Linked DNA regions of Homo sapiens: all the other regions are reported to be linked to region 1. Evidence: microRNA targets listed by miRTarBase, many of them from high-throughput screens and not tested one by one. Region 1 holds a microRNA gene; each other region holds the end of a gene's coding sequence.

Evidence for each region. Region 1 holds the annotated microRNA hsa-miR-6807-5p (GUGAGCCAGUGGAAUGGAGAGG, at 1,492-1,513, shown strand). A microRNA usually pairs through its seed, bases 2 to 8, with sites in the 3' UTR of a target mRNA and lowers its output. Matches are read on the target gene's strand: a 7mer-m8 pairs with bases 2 to 8, a 7mer-A1 pairs with bases 2 to 7 and ends in A, and an 8mer does both.
Region 2: the mRNA of ARHGAP15 is a reported target of hsa-miR-6807-5p. The part of its 3' UTR that is shown has no 7-base or 8-base seed match.
Region 3: miRTarBase lists ACO1 as a target of hsa-miR-6807-5p. Seed matches in the 3' UTR shown: 7mer-m8 at 2,014-2,020 and 7mer-m8 at 3,595-3,601.
Region 4: miRTarBase lists HM13 as a target of hsa-miR-6807-5p. The part of its 3' UTR that is shown has no 7-base or 8-base seed match.

Annotation. Positions count from the first base shown.
Region 1 is chr19:58,548,794-58,552,793 of GRCh38, forward strand. MIR6807 (microRNA 6807) reads left to right here and starts at 1,492; the gene lies at 1,492-1,583. It overlaps TRIM28 (tripartite motif containing 28), which reads left to right. Exons shown (of 17, transcript NM_005762.3): 11 at 69-117; 12 at 195-447; 13 at 538-857; 14 at 944-1,067; 15 at 1,156-1,242; 16 at 1,354-1,491; 17 at 1,584-1,922. The coding sequence ends at 1,760. It overlaps CHMP2A (charged multivesicular body protein 2A), which reads right to left. Exons shown (of 6, transcript NM_014453.4): 3 at 3,466-3,645; 4 at 3,262-3,392; 5 at 3,113-3,174; 6 at 2,773-2,983. The coding sequence ends at 2,856.
Region 2 is chr2:143,767,796-143,771,870 of GRCh38, forward strand. ARHGAP15 (Rho GTPase activating protein 15) reads left to right here. Exons shown (of 14, transcript NM_018460.4): 14 at 194-557. The coding sequence ends at 377. The region is part of intron 2 of ARHGAP15-AS1 (ARHGAP15 antisense RNA 1); the gene reads right to left. Among named protein-coding and RNA genes, the nearest start is that of ARHGAP15-AS1, 6.3 kb to the right of the region's middle.
Region 3 is chr9:32,449,780-32,453,854 of GRCh38, forward strand. ACO1 (aconitase 1) reads left to right here. Exons shown (of 21, transcript NM_002197.3): 21 at 219-4,075. The coding sequence ends at 332. Among named protein-coding and RNA genes, the nearest start is that of ACO1, 67 kb to the left of the region's middle.
Region 4 is chr20:31,568,510-31,572,584 of GRCh38, forward strand. It overlaps HM13 (histocompatibility minor 13), which reads left to right. Exons shown (of 13, transcript NM_178581.3): 13 at 611-1,034. The coding sequence ends at 710. All of the region lies in intron 2 of HM13-AS1 (HM13 antisense RNA 1), which reads right to left. Among named protein-coding and RNA genes, the nearest start is that of HM13-AS1, 2.7 kb to the right of the region's middle. RefSeq lists a silencer at 1,097-1,391.

The DNA.
Region 1 (4,000 bases):
GTGGGTGGGGAAGGGCCCCAGTGCTGTTTCTACCCCAACCTGCCAGTCTTCTTTCTCCATTTTCTAAGGAGATGATCCCTACTCAAGTGCAGAGCCCCATGTGTCAGGTGTGAAACGGTAAGTATGGCACCTCCCCTGGGGGTGAGGTGGATGGAGGGTGGGGGTGTACTCATGCCAGGTTGCTGCATCTACAGGTCCCGCTCAGGTGAGGGCGAGGTGAGCGGCCTTATGCGCAAGGTGCCACGAGTGAGCCTTGAACGCCTGGACCTGGACCTCACAGCTGACAGCCAGCCACCCGTCTTCAAGGTCTTCCCAGGCAGTACCACTGAGGACTACAACCTTATTGTTATTGAACGTGGCGCTGCCGCTGCAGCTACCGGCCAGCCAGGGACTGCGCCTGCAGGAACCCCTGGTGCCCCACCCCTGGCTGGCATGGCCATTGTCAAGGTAAGCCTGTCCCAAGGAACTATAGCTGTAGGATGAAGCCTGTAGTCCAGGTCTGGACCCTGTTGAACACCCCTCATCACCACCTTGCAGGAGGAGGAGACGGAGGCTGCCATTGGAGCCCCTCCTACTGCCACTGAGGGCCCTGAGACCAAACCTGTGCTTATGGCTCTTGCGGAGGGTCCTGGTGCTGAGGGTCCCCGCCTGGCCTCACCTAGTGGCAGCACCAGCTCAGGGCTGGAGGTGGTGGCTCCTGAGGGTACCTCAGCCCCAGGTGGTGGCCCGGGAACCCTGGATGACAGTGCCACCATTTGCCGTGTCTGCCAGAAGCCAGGCGATCTGGTTATGTGCAACCAGTGTGAGTTTTGTTTCCACCTGGACTGTCACCTGCCGGCCCTGCAGGATGTACCAGGGTGAGTGTGAGGCTGGTGGGGGTCAAGTCTGGGTGTTGGGCTGTCTGGACAGGATCATGTGCAGACCCTTATTTTCTTCACCCTAGGGAGGAGTGGAGCTGCTCACTCTGCCATGTGCTCCCTGACCTGAAGGAGGAGGATGGCAGCCTCAGCCTGGATGGTGCAGACAGCACTGGCGTGGTGGCCAAGCTCTCACCAGCCAACCAGCGGGTGAGGGCTGGGGTTACTTAGGTGGGGTTGCCCAGAGAGGCTTTATAGGTGCTGCCCAGAGCTGTGACATCCCTTACAATGTTTGTAGAAATGTGAGCGTGTACTGCTGGCCCTATTCTGTCACGAACCCTGCCGCCCCCTGCATCAGCTGGCTACCGACTCCACCTTCTCCCTGGTGAGTCCTAGGATGGGAAAGGGGAAGGGGGTGGTGGCTGCTGGGTCTCGCCCTCAACCTGTGCATGTATATGTGTGTCTTTGTGTGTGTATGTGTGATCTCTGCCTGCAGGACCAGCCCGGTGGCACCCTGGATCTGACCCTGATCCGTGCCCGCCTCCAGGAGAAGTTGTCACCTCCCTACAGCTCCCCACAGGAGTTTGCCCAGGATGTGGGCCGCATGTTCAAGCAATTCAACAAGTTAACTGAGGTGAGCCAGTGGAATGGAGAGGCTGTGGGCAGGGGGAGATGTGAAGGAAAGAACTAGGACCCATTCATCCACTGCATTCCTGCTTGGCCCAGGACAAGGCAGACGTGCAGTCCATCATCGGCCTGCAGCGCTTCTTCGAGACGCGCATGAACGAGGCCTTCGGTGACACCAAGTTCTCTGCTGTGCTGGTGGAGCCCCCGCCGATGAGCCTGCCTGGTGCTGGCCTGAGTTCCCAGGAGCTGTCTGGTGGCCCTGGTGATGGCCCCTGAGGCTGGAGCCCCCATGGCCAGCCCAGCCTGGCTCTGTTCTCTGTCCTGTCACCCCATCCCCACTCCCCTGGTGGCCTGACTCCCACTCCCTGGTGGCCCCATCCCCCAGTTCCTCACGATATGGTTTTTACTTCTGTGGATTTAATAAAAACTTCACCAGTTCCTCAGGCGTTGGCTGGTTGGGGGACTGTGGTCCTGGGGCCTGGTTTATTGACTGTATCTACTAGTCAGCCTTATCAAGCACTGGTGGCACAAGGGAGGGGGGTCTTGTCCCCCACCTATCGAAGCCCATGTGTATGGATGCCTAGGGAGTGGGGAAGACTGCCTCCTTGCCCTTTCTGGGTATGGGGAGGGTCACCCAGGGCAAAGGATGTACACACTAGAGGCTTGTTGGGTACCCTGTGGGATACTGGGTAGGTGTGACCTACATCCCTGTGTAGGCAGGGTTAGCCCCAGGTGTAGCACAGCCACTCTACTGAATGCTTCCTAAATTTTGGTGCTGTAGCTGTTTCTCATCTTCAGAAGGTCCCACAGTGAACTGAGACCTTCCAGATGTGGTTTTTTTCCCTGTCTCCCTTTGCTGAGTCCACTTAACATTATCATTCATCTCTGTGTTATGATTTAGTTACTCTACAGTCGAGCCTGTGTGAATCCCAAGGCCACCCCCTTGCCTCTATTGGTTGGTCTGGACTGTCCTTGAGTGTTGTCATTAAACCATCACTGGACCAAACAGTGTTGGACACTACAGCCTGGCAGATGAGGCCTGGACTCTCAAGATCCTACCAGGGTGTTTGGGCAGTCCAGTATCTTGGGAGAGGTGATGGAGAAGGGCCCACAGCTCACCTGAAGCTCCCAGCTCCTGAAAATCCCAGGTGGACTTTGCTTGTTCACCCCTGCCCCAAACCCCCACCCTTAGCTTAGTACCAAGTGCCTCTTGCCTTAGTGATGCCCATCCTCCCAGGGACCCCAGTCTGGTCCCACATCAGGCCAAAAGTCACATGGGCCTGGAGACTAGTGTCAAATCTCTTTTATTACAGAGGGGTTGTGGTAAAAGATCCTGGGCATCCACTGGTTATCTCGGAGTGGCAGGGGCACTCAGTCCCTCCGCAGGTTCTTAAGCCGTTCCTCCAGGTCTGCATCAGCATCAGCTAGGGCTGAGGCTGCGGCCTCTGCTTTTTTCCCACCAGCAGCCACACTAAGCGAGCCCCCAGTTGAGGGGAGGTCTGCAGAGAAAGTGGGGGTTTGAGCAGGTGGGGTCAGGCAGCGGAGGGGAGTAATGCAGGGAAAGGGAGGGCTTGGAGCTGTGGCTGGGCCTTGGGTGGGAAATGGGGTCCAGGATTTGGAGCACTCACTCGACAGCTCATCTGTTAGGCTAAGTCCCAGCTCATCCAGAACCTGGGACACCACAGCATCACTAGGGAAGAGAGAGAACTCAGTGAGGGCTATGCACTCCGTGAGGGCCAGGCAAACATCTCCACCCTCCCATCCAGTTTCCCCATACCTCTCCTCTTCATCTTCCTCATCACCCATGGCATCATCAATGGCATCATTCATCATCTCCTCCTTCATATCCATGATCTCTGCCTGCCGCTCAAACTCCATCATGATCTTCTGGATCTGGGGCAACTTCAGCTGGAAGTGACAGGAGTGTGAGTGTGATCCCCATGGGTCGTGGGAGTGGGAAGGGGGATTGGGAAAAGCGCACCTGTCTGTTCATGGTGCCCATGGCCTTGGTGACACCCTTCATGGCTTGTGCCATCGAGTTGTTGGACTTGAGTGTCTGGATCTTGAGGGACACAGCCTGGATGTTGGCCCGCATCAATACAAACTTGCGCACATAGCGCCGGGTGCGCACCAAGTCTTTTGCCATGATGCGAACAGCATCCTGCAGAGTAGACAAGGGTATCAAGGACACAGGAATGAGATTATCCTACACTTCTTGACACCCCATTAGTTGGTTGTCCCTCCCCACCAGCCCAATTTGCAATTCCACTTGAAGTTTCCAGAGACTCTGGCTAACCCAATGGTCACTGGTCCCTCCCTCCTTCTGACCTAACCCTCCTCTGCCTCTTGGGCCACCAACTCCCTGGGCTCCTTTGTAAGGTCCTCCTCACTTCTCTTGATCTGTAAATGGTAAAAGAAAGGCCCCAGGCTCACTCCTGAGGGTTCCTTTTCCCTCCATGTTTTCAGTCATTCTTTTGACTTACAACAGCCATTCCTCAATTTTTATTCCCAGCCTA
Region 2 (4,075 bases), not on the chromosome of region 1:
ACAAGGCAATGTATCCTTTCCCCAAAACTCATAGGTTCTACTTCCATACAGTAAAGTATGTAGGGTAGAAGATTAAATAATGTTATAATGCAGTTACTTTTCCTGAATGAGAAACCTTTTTTAATCACTCCAAAGTAGCCATAACTTCACTTCAAACTCCAGTGAAATTATTTTTTTTTCTCTCTCTCCACAGGATAGTGGCCAAAGCCTCCAAGAACCTCATGTCCACGCAAAGCTTGGGGATTGTATTTGGACCTACCCTTCTGCGAGCTGAAAATGAAACAGGAAACATGGCGATCCACATGGTCTACCAGAACCAGATAGCTGAGCTCATGCTGAGTGAGTACAGTAAGATCTTCGGCTCAGAGGAAGACTGACAGACAAGACAAGCTACTGAATACGTTCACATCTGTCTTGATGCCTAATATTTTTACATTTCTGTAAACATATTTCTGAAATATTTTTTGCCTTTCAAGCGACAGATGCCTCATTTTGTGAAAACTTAATGATGATTTTGTGTTTAAGTTCCAAACATTTGAATAAAATAATTGACAATATTTGCCTCTATGTGTTCTACATTAACCCCTTTGGTGCTATGCCTTCTAGCACTTCTAGGAGCACATCATGCATGCCTCATGCTATTAAATAATATGCAAAGACTAGCACATATTCAAAAAATGGCCTTAATGCTGCTCCAGGGAATTGGGTGTGTGGTTGTGTATGTGGAGATGTGAGTGAGTGTGGTTGGGAGTAGGGGTGCATGTGCACACATGTGCTTTCCCAAGATCCAGGCTGCCTTAAACATGACTCCATACTGTTACTTGGACACGGATAGAACACAAAGAGGTAGGAAGGCAGAAGCTATTAATTTGTAAATTGAACGAAGGAGATCAGGTTCACAACCAAAACATATATATTTCATCTTTCCAGAACATTTTTGTATATATAAATATAGTCCAGCTATTTTCAATGCTATACAGTGAAATTTATAAATATAACATGTTGAATGGCAATTTTTCTCAAGAAAAATGACAGTTCAAAGCATTTGCCATTGAATTTTTTATAAATACAAATGTAGTCCCATAAACACACTATCTTATAAATTAGAAGCAAAATTAGTGCCCTGCAATTTTGATCTTTATATTACACAGGAATTGCATGACTGCTCATTTTTAATGCTAACATCCATTTTGAATCTTCATCAAACTGTATATCTTCCTTTTCCCTGGCTATGTCATTTTATGTAGAATTTTTATTATACTTCTGAGGATGCTTTATTGGTGAATTACATTAAATCCATCTAGAAAGAACTTTTTTAAAGCCTTTTTTTTCATATGCCCTAAGGATTACTTGACTAGACTTAGATTGCTTTATCCATTTGATAGTTTCAGTTGTCATGGATAAACAAAAGGGTAACTGTCTAGAATATATCAAACATTGTTTTATTTTGAAAAGTATGTTCTAGTTGAACACATCTCATACTGGTTTTATGAAAGTATTCTGCTGATAAAAATGTAGACTTACGTTTGACAGCTTTTTAATCAAATTCAAACAGAATAAATAAAACTAATCCAGTGTGATAAAGAGTAAGTATAGTTATCGATTTGTTCATAAAATGAAAAATAAAACATGTAAATAAAACGGGTGAAGCACAGATCCAGAGCAAACACTTAGGGCAATAATGAGCTCCACGGCATAGGCTGTCTGTTTAGATGGGGTATTCAGGAGACGGGGAGAGTCTGCTCAAGAGATAGCCAGATGTGCAGGCAGCTCCAACATCCATGGAGCTGCCTGAGGAAGCAGAGGACTCCCTTGTCCCTTTTGAATGTCTTCATTTTAGCAATGGCGCCAGTAAGTGGGCTTGTAGCCAAGAACAGAGAAGCCACCACAATAAGTGCTGAAGTGCAGTTTCATCCAGTGGGATGTATACACATACAAAAAGCTGAAAAAAAGTCGCATGAAGCAGAACTCCATGATCTGAAGTCACCAGTAACAGTGGGCTGGCAGACTTGCTAGCTTTAAGTGATTCTTATAAGTAAAATTGTAATTATGCCTTTCAGAAAAACATGGAGACATGAAACAAGAGTTTCTGGCATTCTATTTCAAGTCGTTCTCATTTCCATGCCATTCCGTATTCTCAATTAGGTCTTTCCCAAGACTTTGATTACTTCCCTTTTTGAAGCGTTGGGGGAGAGTAGATTTAGTGGTTCTAGCATTAAAATCTTATCCCTTCACACGTATCCATCTTTAAAGTTATTCTGGAAGCATCAGCCAGAGAGAACCAGCACTGAAAGCCAAAGAGAAGTGGCACTACCTGCTTTGGGCAGGGACTCACAGCCCCTTGTCTCTGTTGCTTTCCAGATTTATAATCTTCAAAAGCACCAGCTTCTTGATTTCCAATCTGATGGGATTTAGCCTGATTCAAACCCCAGCTGTGTCCTGTCCCTGCCTGCTAAGGGCATTTAATCAGAGAATGTGTTTCCTCTCTGGGAAAAGGCCATTCCAACGTGCTGAGCCAAAGTGCCCATCACAGGATCTGACCTAACACACTAAAGGCATAAAAAGGGTTACACCAAAAAGTTATTATTAGATTCCGTAACATCTCAAATACAGTGATGACGGCCATATCAAGTCTTCCATGTTTAGAAGCTGAGATTATAAGTATACTAGGTTGACTAAAAGGTTAGATTTCATATAACTGGTCAATATTCTCCAGCAAGAAGTCATGAAACACCAGTGAGCATTTCCTTATCTCCTAGTTTGAACCAGGCAAAATTCTAGGCACTGGTGACACAAATATTAAATAAGACAAATATTTCTACCCTCTGTAGTTTCAGCCCAGTGAGGGAGACTATCCCTAACAATTAATTACAGTTCAATACAAGATCAGGTGCCTTAGCCATCTTGGTAAGCGTGTAGACCCAGGATTCGGCACCTATACTTAAAGATGCTCAAAATGTATTGTTGAATGAATGGGCAAACAGAACAGAAGCTATTCCAGACATATTAACAATGCTCAGTGGCTGACAAATACCAAAAGACTCAGTTACAGGCAGTAACTGTCCTCTGACTCTGTTACAGAGTTAGATGTGGCTTCATTGGGAAGGTAACCTTTTCTATCTAATCTTGACCAATGAACAAGATTTACCAAAGAAAAATGCAGAAAACACACCAGGAAACAGGAATGGCACGAACAGAGTCATGAAAGACCTGACATTCTCCAAAGAAAAGTGAGAAGTTCAGTGAATAAAGGGTGAAGTGCATGCCTAGCAATTTTGGAATATAAAGCTAGAGAAAGATGTTGGGATCAGATATCAGCCATGATAACATATTCAGATTTTATCCTGTAGGCAAAAGGGATCCCATAGAGGCTGTAAAGCCAGAAAGCTATAGAGAAACTTTGTTTCTTAGAGAATCTCTAAATTCACCAATGGGCAGGAAAAAAATTAATTTGAGGAGACCAGCATTTTCTCATGTATGTGTTTGTGTGTGAAATAAAATTATAATCTTATATTCTTAGGGTCAGTTCTAGTTATGATGATGAAACATTTTAAGAAATTGTAACTTAGTCTGTAGAATGGAAACACAAGTCCCTAGAAAATCAAGCTAGTTATTATGTCCCATTTCAGCACGCCTTTACCTACCCAGGATATCAGAGGTTTCCCCTCTTTCTTATTGACACAGAAAGCTGCTTGGAGATGGTATATATTTCATCTTATATGTTGACAGTCTGACTTTCTTAGCATGTGCCATATGACAGGATCACCATGCCACAACTAGTAATTGAAAGCCATATGATGGTTCTCCCTATCCAATTAGAAAACAAACGATCCAATTAAGAAAAATTTTAAAAGCTGTTAAAAGGAAGCAATCACTTGCCAATAGTGCTGTCCTTACAGTTTAACACAGCTAGAAATTGACCTGTACTTCTCTTTTCCACATTTATTTTTGTGAATTATAAGTTAATCACCCTGTCAATTCCTAATTAAAAGGCCCTGCAAAGATTTTCATCCAAAAAGGACTGTTGCTAAGGGTTCTGGGTCAAATTGCTCTGTTGTCAAAAATGAGGAATAAA
Region 3 (4,075 bases), not on the chromosome of region 1:
AAACTGTAATGGGCAAAGCAGCCTCCCAGAGATCTTGCTGAAATGCATCTTCTGATTTAGTGGGTCTGGGCTGGGGCCAGCAGCCTTGCATGTCCTCATGTGCTGCTGGTGTTACTGAAGTGTGGACCACACCTGAGGGGCAGGCTGGGCAGAATTTCCTCCGAGCAGAGCTGTCTCGCCACCTCCCTCAATGATGCTTCTGTTTCTTTGTGCCACAGCTGGATACTGGCAAGACCTTCCAGGCTGTCATGAGGTTTGACACTGATGTGGAGCTCACTTATTTCCTCAACGGGGGCATCCTCAACTACATGATCCGCAAGATGGCCAAGTAGGAGACGTGCACTTGGTGCTGCGCCCAGGGAGGAAGCCGCACCACCAGCCAGCGCAGGCCCTGGTGGAGAGGCCTCCCTGGCTGCCTCTGGGAGGGGTGCTGCCTTGTAGATGGAGCAAGTGAGCACTGAGGGTCTGGTGCCAATCCTGTAGGCACAAAACCAGAAGTTTCTACATTCTCTATTTTTGTTAATCATCTTCTCTTTTTCCAGAATTTGGAAGCTAGAATGGTGGGAATGTCAGTAGTGCCAGAAAGAGAGAACCAAGCTTGTCTTTAAAGTTACTGATCACAGGACGTTGCTTTTTCACTGTTTCCTATTAATCTTCAGCTGAACACAAGCAAACCTTCTCAGGAGGTGTCTCCTACCCTCTTATTGTTCCTCTTACGCTCTGCTCAATGAAACCTTCCTCTTGAGGGTCATTTTCCTTTCTGTATTAATTATACCAGTGTTAAGTGACATAGATAAGAACTTTGCACACTTCAAATCAGAGCAGTGATTCTCTCTTCTCTCCCCTTTTCCTTCAGAGTGAATCATCCAGACTCCTCATGGATAGGTCGGGTGTTAAAGTTGTTTTGATTATGTACCTTTTGATAGATCCACATAAAAAGAAATGTGAAGTTTTCTTTTACTATCTTTTCATTTATCAAGCAGAGACCTTTGTTGGGAGGCGGTTTGGGAGAACACATTTCTAATTTGAATGAAATGAAATCTATTTTCAGTGAAAACTTGTTGACTTTGAGTTTTGCTGTGTTTGTGGCTAGAGTTTTGGGATATTTAGTACAGAGTGAATCTCACACCATATCATTGGGAAGCCTGAATAACCTTCATATTCTCCCATTTTTACAACTCTATCAGAACTGTACGGGTATAACGGAAATGTTTAGGAACCATTATGCTCGCTCTTCCCTGTTTGGGAGCAGACAAGAAGGAAGAGTAGCCTGGTGGCAGTGGCAACGATATAAGTACATAAGGAAAAGCAGATAAACTTCAGGACACTAAAAACCAATTATCTGCTCATTTTTACCCCTGTAGTCATTTCTGGGCATGCCTTAGTTTGCTTGGGTTGCTATAATGTAATGCCATAGACTGGCTGAAAGAACAGAAATGTATTTTCTCACAGTTATGGAGGCTGGAATTCTGAGATCAAAGTTGAAGCCACTTCATTTTCTGGTGAGGACACTCTTCCTGGTTTACAGATGGCCACCTTCTTGCTTGTTCTCACATGGCATTTCTTTGGTATGTGCCTGGTGGGGGAGAGAGAAAATAGGCTCTCATGTCTCTTCTTACAGCAACACTAATTGTATTGGATCAGGGTCCCACTCTTATGGAGACCCAGGAAAGCTGGTGGTATAACAACTTGGTTCAAGTCCAAATGCCTAAGAACCTGGGGAGGGGCATGGGGAATGCTGGTATAAGTCCCAGAGTCTGAATGCCCAGGAACAAGCAGGAGCTGTGATGTCCAAGGACAGGAGGGCAGGATCTTTGTAATGAATTTTTAATGTCAACCTTAGCACTCAGGGGATATGGCCTGGTCATCAGAACATCTGGAATCTAATCCTCTTTCTACTTCTCACCAGATGAGGGATCAAGACAGGTTATTTAGCATCCCTGCACTTGCGGTCCTGGGGATCTTATTTATATTCATTTAAAAAATAAATTACAAACAAACAGCCAGGCGCAGTGGCTCATGCCTATAATTCCATCACTTTGGGAGGCCGAGGTGGGTAGATCACCTGAGGTCAGGAGTTCTAGACCAGCCTGGCCAACATGGTGAAACCCCGTCTCTACTAAAAATACAAAAAATTAGCCAGGTGTGGTATTGTGTGCCTGTAATCCCAGCTACACAGGAGGCTGAGGCAGGAGAATTGCTTAAACCCGGGATGCAGAGGCTGCAGTGAGCCGAGATCGTGCCATTGCACGCCCGCCTGGGCTACAAGAGCAAAGCTCCGTCTCAAAAAAAAAAAAAAATTACAAACAAACAGAACTCCATTGTACAAAAAAACCTGTGATCCTCAAGTTAAGATCAGTCCTAGAATAAAAACACTAAGAATGGCTGAGAAAACAGACCTCCACCCTCTCAGCTCTCCATTACTGAGCAGCTGGGGAGCTGTCTCGCTCCCCGCATTCAGTGGCTCCTGTGGTCTGTATTTTTGTATCCTCCCCAAAATTCAGGTGGTGAAACCTTAACCCCCCAGGTAATGGTAATAGAAGCTGGGGCCTTTGGAAGGTGATTAGATCATGAGGGTAGTGCCTTTTAAAAGAGACTCAAGATAAGATAGAGACCCCCTCATTTCTTCTGCCATGGGAGAACACAGCAAGAAGTCACCATCCGTGAACCAGAAAGTGGGTTCTCACCAGATACTGAATCTGCCAGTGCCTTGAACCTAGACTTTCCAGCCAGAACTGTGAGAAATTTCTATTGTTTATAAGCCACCCAGTTGATATTTAGTTACAGCAGCCCAACCAAGACTGTGGTTATGAGGAAACAAACACATTATTGTGGCTAGACTAATGGAATTGGGTCCCTTACCTCCAAGTACACCCTCTGTCCTTTTCGGTAAAAATATCTTCGCCAGGCACGGTGTCTCATGCCTATGATCCCAACACTTTGGGAGGCCGAGGCTGGAGGGTTGCTTGAGCCCAGAAGTTTGAGACCAGCCTGGGCAACACTCTACAAAAAAAAAAATAAATAAATAAATAAATAAAATAAATCAGCCAGGTGTGCACCTGTGGTCCCAGCTGTTCAGGAGGCTGAGGTGGGAGGATCACTTGAGCCTGGGAGGTCGTGGCTATGATTGCTCCACTGCACTCCAGCCTGGGCAATAGAGTGAGACCCTATCAATCAATCACCACCCCCCCCCCCCCCAAAAAAAAAAGTATCTTGGCCAGTGTCTCAACCTTGCCCACTAACAAGCCTAAATAAACCAACTTCTTTTACCTGGTTCTTTAAGGGCTGCTCGTCTTACTATCCAAATTAAAAATCTGCTGTTCTCCCTCCCATATTCTTTGCGAATGAAGATTCCCCTGTTTGTTTGGATAGTTTTCCAAATTCATTACTGCATTCCTGGCATCCGCAGCAAGCTAAGAGTTAGTTAATATTTTTAATATAGCAAATAAGGATGAGGGATGCCCTTCATGTGTATTTACACACCAGATTTTTATGGTACATAGGGAGTAATCTAGGGAAAAGATATATTAGGCATGAATCTTAGCTGTGGTAGAAGCACAGCTCAAATTAGCTTAAGGAAAAAAAAAAAAAAGCTGGCTCATAGAACTTGAGGACAGTGGTGGCCATGACTATGGGCTTGATTGGATCTAGTGACTCAAGCTCCCTTCCATTTGCCCCTCCAACCACCCCCCCATCCCTCCACCAATCATACCTTCTGTTGGCCTCTGCAGTAGAGTGGCCTCTTCTGGGCCCTTCCACATGCCAGGGGATATGGCCACCAGCAGTTCTGGGGAAACCATTAGTAATTTGTGATCGTAGAGATTTGTCTCCCAGTATTCCCTAGGGCAAAAATATTGGGAGTTCCTAGTCACCTAAATGAAGAACCTTATTTTTAGCAGTTTCCCTTTCAGGGCTCTAACAGGACTGTGGAGTAATGTACGGGGTTATGTAGGAGCAATGCAGAGCCACTTTTGAAAAACAGTAGCCAAGGTTCTACTGGCTGCCTTCTTAGGACATTATTAAATATCATAAACACAAGTGGAATTTAACACCCAGCCAGTTTGTGTTCAACCAG
Region 4 (4,075 bases), not on the chromosome of region 1:
ATGTATAACCTTAGGCAAGTTACTTTCTTCATCTGTAAGTGGGCACATTCCTGCCTCACGGGGTTTATCTGGTGAGGAAAGATTTGTATTATCTTTGGCATGAACTCAGTTGCTTGAAAAATGAAGCCCATAGAAGAAGCTAAGCCAGGGTGTCTGTCTTCAGAGCAGCACCTTGCCGCTTGCCAGTACAGCAGTGCCCTCACCTCTGGGGCTGAGCTGTTTGATTCATGCTGTGTGCCCTGGGAGGCAGCCTATCTCCATCTCTTGTAGCCTTGTCATGGCCACCCCTTTTTCCACGCTACAGCAGAAGGTTCAGGAAGCTTGAAATCAGCCCACACAAGCCCAGGCCCAACCTCTCTTCCATTGGCTGCTGCCCTTGCTGCCTCCTGGTACCCCCAGGCTCAGAGAAAGCAGAGCAGCCTGCCTGAGGAGGGCATGTGGTAGGGCTGGGGCCAGGCGCTGTTAGGTGCTGGGCAGTGGACACAGGGCTGACGCTCTGCATGTGACCAGGCGCTTTCCTAGGATGGGGGTGGGGGAAGGGGACAACCAAGGTTCTGCTCACCCTCTCCTCTAAATGAATTTTTATTGTTGTTTTTTTTTTTTTGGTCAGTTATGAGGAGTCAAATCCTAAGGATCCAGCGGCAGTGACAGAATCCAAAGAGGGAACAGAGGCATCAGCATCGAAGGGGCTGGAGAAGAAAGAGAAATGATGCAGCTGGTGCCCGAGCCTCTCAGGGCCAGACCAGACAGATGGGGGCTGGGCCCACACAGGCGTGCACCGGTAGAGGGCACAGGAGGCCAAGGGCAGCTCCAGGACAGGGCAGGGGGCAGCAGGATACCTCCAGCCAGGCCTCTGTGGCCTCTGTTTCCTTCTCCCTTTCTTGGCCCTCCTCTGCTCCTCCCCACACCCTGCAGGCAAAAGAAACCCCCAGCTTCCCCCCTCCCCGGGAGCCAGGTGGGAAAAGTGGGTGTGATTTTTAGATTTTGTATTGTGGACTGATTTTGCCTCACATTAAAAACTCATCCCATGGCCAGGGCGGGCCACTGTGCTCCTGGAAGATTCTCTGTTTAAGCACCCAGTGTCTTGCCCTGGGTTTTCTAGGTCTCACCTGCCCACCCAAAATCTTTTCTGCAAGCCCCTTAAGGGTGCCCACCCCAGTGCCTGGCCAGCCCTGCACCCGTAAAACACCTTTTAGCCAGTAGAGGGGGCCCACGAGCCCTCTCTCACCAGCTAGCACTTTTCTCACCACCTTCCTCGAAATACTTGGGGGCAGCAAGGGTGTTGGCAGATGAGAGTCTCCCACTCACCATGGTGAGAGTGGTGGGGAGTACCCAGGGCTGACCTGACTCACAAGGGAAGCAGTAACTGTAGAACCTGCCAGCCTCCCTGGTCCCTGTGCCCATATGGCTTCGGCTGATGAGGGCTCAGACTCTAGGTTGCCCTGAAGATCAAGGCTTTGTCTCCCATTCTGCCCATTCCTGGGTTTCTTCCCAAAATGACTACTGTGGGGCCAGTCATGGCACAAGGGCCAGGACCTCTAGAGGCTGGGGTGGGGAAGGACTGAGCTAGTGATTCTTAGAGGCCTTCTGGGGCCTAAGAGCTGAAATCTCAGCGCCCGGGTTTCCCTAAAGTTTGCTGAAGACAGCAGCCCCGGCCAGCAGGAGACCGACCGGGCACCACCCCAAACCAGGCAAACGGTGGCCACAACCCTCATCCACCCACCTGGTATGAGGTCACTGAGTGGGGAAACAGACAGGAGCGGGTGGCCACCATACTGACAGACCCGGGGCTCTCCCTTGCCCAAGCTTCAGGTTCAAAGGCTGAAAATAACAGTGGCTTCCAGTTTGGAAGTGGCCAAAGGACAATCATGACCAGAGACTCAGGAGTATGACTGTAATACCCTCACTAGGTATTGACATGCACTAAGCACCTTGATATAGGATTTCACTTCCTTCTGAGTCTTGGGCTGTATGTGCTATTATTCGCTCCGCTGTGCAGATGAGGGAATTGAGGCAGCTTGCCCATGGACATCGATTTGACCTTAGCCAAGCCAAACAATTCCAGGTTCCTAAGGACCGCAGCTCCTCCCCAGACCCCTGGGACCAAGTCACTGGCTGGTGTGCTGGGCATCCCTGAGCCCCAGCCACCCAATTTTACTGGCTCCAGGGTTCTATAGGAAGGAAAAGGGGTAGAAAATTTCAAAAGGCTTCTTCCTTTCAGGGAGGGGGGTTCCCTTTCAGGGGCTTCTGGAATCTCTACCCACTCCAGCCAACTCTGAGGCCATGTGGTCCTGGAACAAGGCCCCTCTGAGGCAGATGGGGCAGGCGGCCCAGGCACATAGCATGGTTGGCTCTGCGGCCCAGGGCGCACAAAGGCCTTATTGAGTCACCACCAGCCCCCGGCAGAGGCTGAGGTGGCAGTGGCGCCGAGCGCCTGCCACCTAATGACTGTCCTGGTCCAGCCAGATGTTCCACAGACCTCCGGAGCAGCGGACTAGGGCCCGCCCGGCCAGCCGGCACCGCAGAGGCCACTGTAATTCCAATTAACCAGCTTCAGCTGAGCAAACAGCGGGCAGTGGTGGCCCAGCCCAGGCGGTAGGCCTGGCCCGCAGAGCCTGCGAGTCTAGACTCCAGATGTGAACCGCCACCATCAGAGTCCCATGGAAAAATGGCACCAGGCCGGGCAAGGATTGGGCCTGCATGCTGGGGAGGGGGTGTGGGTGGTTGGGCAGGGCCCCGAGTGGGCTAGATGCCAGCCTCACCTGGTTTGGGGTGGATTATTAGGAAACTGCTCTAGAACCCAAGTTCTACCCTGCTTTATTAGATTCTGTTTCTGTGCCTCAGTCTCCCATGACTGCGACAAGAGAGAGGGTTCCAAGGGGAAAACCAGCCCTGCTGAGACCCCAGTGTGCACTGACTGTATTTCACGTGACTAGCATTATGCTAGTGCAACTGACCCTTGAACAACACAGGGATTAGGGGCACCAACCCATCATGGTCGAAAATCTGTATAACTTTTCAGTCCCGCAAAACAACTAATAGTCTGCTGTTGACCAGAAGCCTTACCTGATAACATAAACAGTCAAAACATCTTGTATGTTATACGTACTACACTGTCTACCATAGAGTAAGCTAGAGAAAATGTAATTAAGAAAATCCTAAGAGCCAGGCATGGTGGCTCATGCCTGTAATCCCAGCATTTTGGGAGGCCAAGATGGGCAGATCAGGAGGTCAGGAGATCGAGACCATCCTGGCTAACATGGTGAAACCCCCGTTTCTACTAAAAATACAAAAAATTAGCCGGGCATGATGGCAGGCGCCTGTAGTCTCAGCTACTCGGGAGGCTGAGGCAGGAGAATGGCCTGAACCCGGGAGGCAGAGCTTGCAGTAAGCCGAGAGAGGCAGGCGGATCACAAAGTCAGGAGTTCGAGACCAGCCTGGCCAATATGGTGAAACCCCGACTCTACTAAAAATACAAAAATTAGCCTGGCATGGTGGCAGGCGACTGTAGTCCCAGCTACTCAGGAGGCTGAGGTGGGAGAATCACTTGAACCCAAGAGGCGGAGGTTGCAGTGAGCCAAGATTGCACCACCGCACTCCAGCCTGGGGGACAGAGTGAGACTCCGTCTCAAAAAAAAAAAAATTATTCAGTGAAAGTGGATCATCATAAATAAAGATCTTCATCCTGGTCTCTGTGTTGAGGAAGAGGAGGGGGTTGGTCTTGGTGTCTCAGGGGTGGCAGAGGTAGAAAAAAAGTCCACGTTTAAGTGCACCTGCACAATTGAAACCCGTGTTCAAGTTTCAAATGTATCTTAAGATTTACTTAATCGTTGTAACAACACTTTGAGGTACCTACATCATTCTTACGATGGGGAAACTGAGGCAGAGACCGTAAGGGCGGGCCCAGGGGGCATGTGAACCCAGAGTGTCTGGCTTCCAAGACTCGTATTCACCGTGGTGCCGTTTGACATGATCAGGATAATGGATCCCTGGTTCCTTTTGGGGGCAGCATTGGAGAAGGGGGTTTGGCACCGTCAGTCTGACAGCAGGGCTGGCTCCTGCAGTGTGAATGAAG